2 linked regions of the Homo sapiens genome follow. Changing the gene in region 1 together with any one later gene gives a genetic interaction. Each region holds a gene or a part of one and is shown in the gene's direction. Other genes may lie near its edges. The genes, in order: ATG9A and GBF1.

What was found.
Region 2: changes in ATG9A (region 1) and GBF1 together harm fitness more than expected from each alone (negative genetic interaction), as found in Homo sapiens cells (one study listed by BioGRID).

The regions. Positions count from the first base shown.
Region 1 is NC_000002.12:219,222,938-219,226,747, reverse strand, and holds part of ATG9A (autophagy-related protein 9A), read left to right. Parts: intron 1-1,175; coding exon 1,176-1,337; intron 1,338-1,535; coding exon 1,536-1,677; intron 1,678-1,893; coding exon 1,894-2,642; intron 2,643-2,725; coding exon 2,726-2,879; intron 2,880-2,983; coding exon 2,984-3,163; intron 3,164-3,810. UniProt on the Homo sapiens protein: Phospholipid scramblase involved in autophagy by mediating autophagosomal membrane expansion. Cycles between the preautophagosomal structure/phagophore assembly site (PAS) and the cytoplasmic vesicle pool and supplies membrane for the growing autophagosome.
Region 2 is NC_000010.11:102,378,032-102,381,841, forward strand, and holds part of GBF1 (Golgi-specific brefeldin A-resistance guanine nucleotide exchange factor 1), read left to right. Parts: intron 1-1,252; coding exon 1,253-1,403; intron 1,404-1,489; coding exon 1,490-1,620; coding exon of another isoform or gene 1,621-1,662; exon of another isoform or gene 1,663-1,698; intron 1,699-1,821; coding exon 1,822-1,923; intron 1,924-2,217; coding exon 2,218-2,331; intron 2,332-2,474; coding exon 2,475-2,655; intron 2,656-3,095; coding exon 3,096-3,224; intron 3,225-3,810. UniProt on the Homo sapiens protein: Guanine-nucleotide exchange factor (GEF) for members of the Arf family of small GTPases involved in trafficking in the early secretory pathway; its GEF activity initiates the coating of nascent vesicles via the localized generation of activated ARFs through replacement of GDP with GTP.

The DNA.
Region 1 (3,810 bases):
CTTTGTAGTTCAGGGACTGGGTGTGGCACCAAAACTTACAGCTTCACCTTTCTTTTTTTTTGAGATGGAGTGAGTCTCACTCTGTCGCCCAGGCAGGAGTGCAGTGGTCTTGGCTCGGTGCAACCTCTGCCTCCCAGGTTCAAGTGATTCTCCTGCCTCAGCCTCCTTAGTAGCTGGGACTACAGGCATGTGCCACCATGCCCGGCTAATTTTTTTTGTATTTTTAGTAGAGATGGGATTTCACCAAGTTGGCCAGGCTGGTCTCGAACTCCTGACCTCGGGTTATCTGCCCGCCTCAACCTCCCGAAGTGCCGGGATTATAGGCATGAGCCACCACGCCCGGCCAAGCTTTCTTACAAGAAAAGCTTTCCAAGCCTTATCTCTTCCATGAAAAGAACCCAAGCCTTGGTTGGGCACGGCAGCTCACACCTGTAATCCCAGCACTTTAGGAGGCTCTAAAAATACAAAAATTAGCTGGGTGTGGTGGCACACGCCTGTAATCCCAGCTACTTGGGAGGCTGAGGCACAAGAATCGCTTCAACCTGGGAGGTGGAGGTTGCAGTGAGCCGAGATTGTGCCGCTGCACTCCAGCCTGGCTGACAGAGTGAGACTCTCTCAAAAAAAAAAAGAATGCAGGCCTTGACCTTGATCATCTCAACGCTCCAATGGAACGTACATTGTTCAGTCAGGAGGTCTCAGAGATGCCAGCCACAGAGAAAAGCCTCTGTTCTGCCTTGCCTGTTCCATGGCCTGCTCCTAGGCAGAGAGCCTCCTGGGAGAGAGAAGCCATATAGCATTGCCGAAGGGGAAGGGGTTAGGAAGCCCTCCCTCAATCAGAAAACTCCCCCAAGGGCTTTTAACTACAACCTCAAAAGGAAATCAGAGACTGGAGATCAGAGACCCACAGGATGAAACCTTCGAGAGTCCAGTAGTGGTGGCTGAGGTTACCATGAGGTGAGGAAAGTAGGCTGCAGCTGTGGCAGCTGAGGCTAAGAGCAAAGAGTGGGCCTGAGACAGTCCTGTGGGGCTGAGGAGCAGAGAGGGCCCACTGGGAGTTCTCCAGGCCCTTCCAGTTCCCAGTCTTGTTCTGCCACCTCCAGACTCTCCTCTTCCCACTGGGTTTCACTGGAGCCTCTCTGGCTCTCAGACTGCACCCCTTCTTCCCAACTCCCCAGGCAGTTCCTCTTTGTGGTTGCCTTCACTACCTTCCTGGTCAGCTGCGTGGACTATGACATCCTATTTGCCAACAAGATGGTGAACCACAGTCTTCACCCTACTGAACCCGTCAAGGTCACTCTGCCAGACGCCTTTTTGCCTGCTCAAGTCTGTAGTGCCAGGTAAGGGCTGCAAGTCAAGAGGACACCATAGCCTTGAGTTCTGCTAGCAGGTGGGTAATAGAGTGGAGTCTGAGGCAGCAACTCATACTCCAGAACTGACTCAGGCTTGGTCTAGCAAAAATACTTCAGGATAGCAGCGTCTCTGCCAAGACTCCTTCCTCGAGGGCCACCTCTCCTCCCCTTCTTTTTCCCCACCAGGATTCAGGAAAATGGCTCCCTTATCACCATCCTGGTCATTGCTGGTGTCTTCTGGATCCACCGGCTTATCAAGTTCATCTATAACATTTGCTGCTACTGGGAGATCCACTCCTTCTACCTGCACGCTCTGCGCATCCCTATGGTAAGACTGGGAAGTTGGGCAGTTAGCCCATAGTCTAAGACGTATTGGGAGGTGTGGGTGTATTCCTGGGCATCAGTTATCCTTATCTGTCATTGACAAATCAGGAACTGTCTCTTAAGCTCACAACCCCTGAATCTCACTTCTAATATAGGGCAAAGGGGTCGAGGCAACAACCCCACCTTCCGTACCTTGTCTCTTCCCCACCCCACCCCGCAGTCTGCCCTTCCGTATTGCACGTGGCAAGAAGTGCAGGCCCGGATCGTGCAGACGCAGAAGGAGCACCAGATCTGCATCCACAAACGTGAGCTGACAGAACTGGACATCTACCACCGCATCCTCCGTTTCCAGAACTACATGGTGGCACTGGTTAACAAATCCCTCCTGCCTCTGCGCTTCCGCCTGCCTGGCCTCGGGGAAGCTGTCTTCTTCACCCGTGGTCTCAAGTACAACTTTGAGCTGATCCTCTTCTGGGGACCTGGCTCTCTGTTTCTCAATGAATGGAGCCTCAAGGCCGAGTACAAACGTGGGGGGCAACGGCTAGAGCTGGCCCAGCGCCTCAGCAACCGCATCCTGTGGATTGGCATCGCTAACTTCCTGCTGTGCCCCCTCATCCTCATATGGCAAATCCTCTATGCCTTCTTCAGCTATGCTGAGGTGCTGAAGCGGGAGCCGGGGGCCCTGGGAGCACGCTGCTGGTCACTCTATGGCCGCTGCTACCTCCGCCACTTCAACGAGCTGGAGCACGAGCTGCAGTCCCGCCTCAACCGTGGCTACAAGCCCGCCTCCAAGTACATGAATTGCTTCTTGTCACCTCTTTTGACACTGCTGGCCAAGAATGGAGCCTTCTTCGCTGGCTCCATCCTGGCTGTGCTTATTGCCCTCACCATTTATGACGAAGATGTGTTGGCTGTGGAACATGTGCTGACCACCGTCACACTCCTGGGGGTCACCGTGACCGTGTGCAGGTGGGCCAGGGCCACAGGCGGGAGCAAGCCGGCTAGCATTCCTGGGAAAGGCATACATCTCACCATGATCCTGATCCCACTAGGTCCTTTATCCCGGACCAGCACATGGTGTTCTGCCCTGAGCAGCTGCTCCGCGTGATCCTCGCTCACATCCACTACATGCCTGACCACTGGCAGGGTAATGCCCACCGCTCGCAGACCCGGGACGAGTTTGCCCAGCTCTTCCAGTACAAGGCAGTGAGTGGAGTTGGAGTTAGGGCCTGCTAGAGACTGGCTGGTAGCTCGGTGGTGAGGGCTGGGCTCCCTCCTGCTCGCTTGTGACCTTGGTCCCGCCCTTTTAGGTGTTCATTTTGGAAGAGTTGCTGAGCCCCATTGTCACACCCCTCATCCTCATCTTCTGCCTGCGCCCACGGGCCCTGGAGATTATAGACTTCTTCCGAAACTTCACCGTGGAGGTCGTTGGTGTGGGAGATACCTGCTCCTTTGCTCAGATGGATGTTCGCCAGCATGGTCATCCCCAGGTACTGGGAGAGGAGGGAGCCAGGTGGCCTGGGATGATGCTGGAACATACAGTGTCTTTGGGAAAACCGCAAAAAGACACCTCTCCTGAGTCACACAAAGGCAGTCCTATACCAGGGGCACACTGCTTGGGAGCCTGGGCTGGATTTCAGCCCTAATTCGCACCCTTGGCCAAGCTCCCTTAAGAAAGGCACAACACGGCCAGGCGCGGTGGCTCACGTCTGTAATCCCAGCACTTTGGGAGGCCAAGGCGGGTGGATCACGAGGTCAGGAGATCGAGACCATCCTGGCTAACACGGTGAAACCCCTTCTCTACTAAAAATACAAAAAAATTAGCCAGGCGTGGTAGCGGGCGCCTGTAGTCCCAGCTACTCGGGAGGCTGAGGCAGGAGAATGGCGTGAACCTGGGAGGCGGAGCTTGCAGTGAGCCGAGATCACGCCACTGCAATCCAGCCTGGGCGACAGAGCGAGACTCCATCTCAAAAAAAAAAAAAAAAAAGGCACAACACAAGTAACTGGCTCAGCATGCAGTGCAGCCCCTCCTGGGTCTGGGGGGGCACCAGTGCCCTGGGAAAGATTGACAGTATACTGTGGTCTCCGTTCTCCAAGGGTAAGGCCTCCCCACTAACAGGAAAGGTGCAGGAAGGCT
Region 2 (3,810 bases), on another chromosome or scaffold:
ACACGGTGAAACCCCGTCTCTACTAAAAATAGAAAAAATAGCTGTGCATGGTGGCAGGCGCCTGTAGTCCCAGCTACTCGGGAGGCTGAGACAGGAGAATGGCGTGAACCCGGGAGGCAGAGCTTGCAGTGAGCCGAGATTATGCCACTGCACTCCAGCCTGGGCGACAGAGCAAGACTCCATCTCAAAAAAAAAAAAAAGAAAGAAAAGAAAAATAACGAAAGTAAAAATGTATTAAATCTGGCCAGACACTATTGCCCAATCAAAGCCTCTGAGCCTGAGGTTTTCTGTTTTAAAAATGAGATTAACAGCCAGGTACAGTGGCTCACACCTGTAATTCCAGCACTTTGGGAGGCTGAGGCGGGAGGATCACTTGAGGCCAGGAGTTCGAGACCAGCCTGGGAAAAATAGCGAGACCCTGCCTCTACAAAAATAAAAATGCAAAAATTATCTGGGCATGGTGGCACACATTGTAGTCCCAGCTACTGGGGAGGCTGAGTAGCTGAGTAGGTGGGAGGATTTCTTGAGCCTAGGAGATCCAGGAGGCAGTGAGCCATGATGGTGCCATGCACTCCAGTTTTGCACAGAGCAAGACCCTGTCTCAAAAAATAAAATAAGAAATAAAATTAGGCCGGGCATGGTATAATCACACCTGTAATCCTAAAACTTTGGGAGGACTATTGCTTGGGCCCAGGAGCTCAAGATCAGCCTGGGCAACATGGCAAAACCCCATCTCTACAAAAATACAAAAAATTAGCTGGCTGTGGCAGCGCACAGCTGTAGTTCCATCTACTCATAAGGCTGAGGTGGGAGGATCACCTGAGCCCAGGAGTTCGAGGCTGCAGCGAGCCGTGATTGTGCCACTGCACTCCAGCCTGGGTGACAGAGTGAGACCCTGCCTCAAAAAATAAAATTAAATTAACAACATGAGGCTTTCTCTGTCATCAGCAGGTGTGAAATAGAATTGAAAAGAAAGTATCTTTCTCACTGTGAGTAAGGATTGTGAAATACTCAGTCCACACACCTCCTAAGGCTCTCTCTCTCATGAGTAATCTCTGACTTGGAGAGTCCTTTACAAGGACTGGAACAACCAGGAAGTCAAGTCAAGGGAAAGAGTAGCGAGGGGGTGAGGTATGGCATGATTGGTGCTAGGGACACCTTGAGGACTTAGTTAGGGACAGTGAGTGGGGAGGGGGAAAGGGATCCACGAGACCTAACCCCACTCACATCCTGCCCCCTCCTGTGATCCTAGTTGCTAGACCTGATGCACACCCTGCACACGCGGGCAGCCTCTATCTACAGCTCATGGGCGGAGGAGCAACGCCACCTGGAGACAGGTGGCCAGAAGATTGAAGCTGATTCTCGCACCCTCTGGGCCCACTGCTGGTGCCCTTTACTGCAGGGTAAACCAGGAGGGGCAGAGGTAGGGAGTTTGGGGAGCATCAGGATCAAGATGCCTGAAGGATCCTGACCCTGCTCTTGCTCTCAGGTATTGCCTGCCTGTGCTGCGATGCCCGGCGCCAGGTACGGATGCAGGCACTGACCTATCTGCAGCGAGCACTACTTGTACATGATCTGCAAAAGCTAGATGCCCTGGAATGGGAGTCCTGTTTTAACAAGGTGGGACTTCCTACTGGTCTTAAGATAAAGTTCAAATCCTAAGAAAAGGAAAGCCAGGCAGCCTGAAGAGCCCCTAATGTGAGTCTTCAGCCTGCATCATACCTTCCCTTCAGCTCTATGCCCATCCAGTTCCTGGCTTCCTTGGGGCAAGGCTGCCTAGCTGAACCTCATAGGGAGACATTGCACATTTACCCCCACCAGGTGCTGTTTCCTCTACTTACCAAGCTCTTGGAGAACATCAGCCCTGCAGATGTGGGTGGGATGGAGGAGACCCGGATGAGGGCTTCCACATTGCTCTCTAAGGTACTGCTCACCACCCTATACCCACCCTCTCTCCCATACCTGCCTTTTCCCGAGGAGGGAAGCCAGGGCTTCTGGCAGGACCTAGAGATGCACTGTAGGTGCTCACAACCCCCCAGCTATGGACACTAAGCAGGACCTAGGGACCTGAGAGGATTCTGAATCTTAAATCAGAGATTCCTCCATCTCTGATCTAAGATTCTCATGCAAGATAGGACAGGCTTAGCTACCCAGCCTCAGAGAGGGGTCCAGAGGCTCCTACAGTCCCCTCAGCTGAAGGGGGCTGGTGGGCCATAGGTCTTCCTGCAGCACCTGTCTCCACTGCTGTCACTCTCTACCTTTGCGGCCCTCTGGCTCACCATCTTGGACTTCATGGACAAGTACATGCACGCAGGCTCCAGCGACTTACTGGTATGTTCTACCTCAGCTCTGCTGCCTGCCTCCTGTCCCACCTGTTGGAAGGACTTGCCCTTTCCCCCTTGGTAGCTACCTCCCTTTACCATACTCCCCCCATGCCCTCTTTCCTATTCTCATGGTCCCACTGCCACCTGCAGTCAGAGGCGATCCCTGAGTCTCTGAAGAACATGCTTCTGGTGATGGACACAGCGGAGATTTTCCACAGTGCAGATGCACGGGGAGGCGGCCCCTCGGCCCTCTGGGAGATCACCTGGGAACGCATTGACTGTTTTCTCCCTCACCTACGAGATGAACTCTTCAAGCAGACCGTCATCCAGGGTAGGGGGCTCAGCCCAGCTTTATCAAAAAGAGTCTCCTGCCTGGGCACAATGGCTCACACCTCTAATCCCAGCACTTTGAGAGGCCGAGGTGGGTGGATCACCCGAGGGCAGGAATTTGAGACCAGCCTGACCAACATAGTGAAACCCCATGTCTACGAAAAATACAAAAATTAGCCAGGTGTGGCGGTGGGTGCCTGTAGTCCCAGCTACTCAGGAGGCTGAAACAGGAGAATCACTTGAACCCGGGAAGTGGAGGTTGCAGTGAGCCGAGATCACAGCCTGAGTGACAGAACGAGATTCCATCTCAAAAAAAAAAAGTCCCCAAAGCTGAATTTATTGTCTGTGCCCTGGGTGGGTAGAAAGGCTGTTGGGTAGCTAGGGCTCTGCTGGAGAGAGAAAGCACTAAGAGGTGCCATCTCAATTCTCTACCGTCTCCAGACCCCATGCCCATGGAGCCTCAAGGCCAAAAGCCTCTCGCCTCAGCCCACCTGACTTCCGCTGCTGGCGACACTAGGACACCTGGCCATCCACCGCCCCCAGAGATTCCATCTGAGCTGGGGGCCTGTGGTGAGTCTCTCTAGCCTAGCCTGATAGGCACTGAGTAGCAAGCAGGGGGCCTAAGAGGAGGCCCAAGGGGGCGTGGGAATGCTGCTGAGCAGGGTCTGTGAGCCGAGGGAAGAAGGCCACTAGAGAGAACTGTTGCCGCTCTTCCCATGGGAAATGACAGGACCATAAGCTATGAGGAACTAGCTGCTTGCAGTCTTCAGGCTTGGGAAGAGAAGGCTGGGTCAGGGACTTGGAATGAATTTGCAGAGGTTTCCTTTCAGGGATTCTAGTAGAGAGTAACCTGGCGGCCAGGCGCAGTGGCTCATACCTGTAATCCCAGCACTTTGGGAGGCTGAGGCAGGTAGATCACCTGAGGTCAGGAGTTTGAAACCAGCCTGGCCAACATGGTGAAACCCCGCCTGTACCAAAAAAATATAAAAATTAGCTGGGCGTGGTAGTGCACACCTATAATCCCAGCTACTGGGGAGGCTGAGGTGGAAGGATCGCTTGAACCCGGGAGGCAGAGGTTGCAGTGAGCTGAGATCATGCCACTGCACTCCAACCTGGGTGATAGTGAGACCCTGTCGCGAAAAAAAAAAAAAAAAAA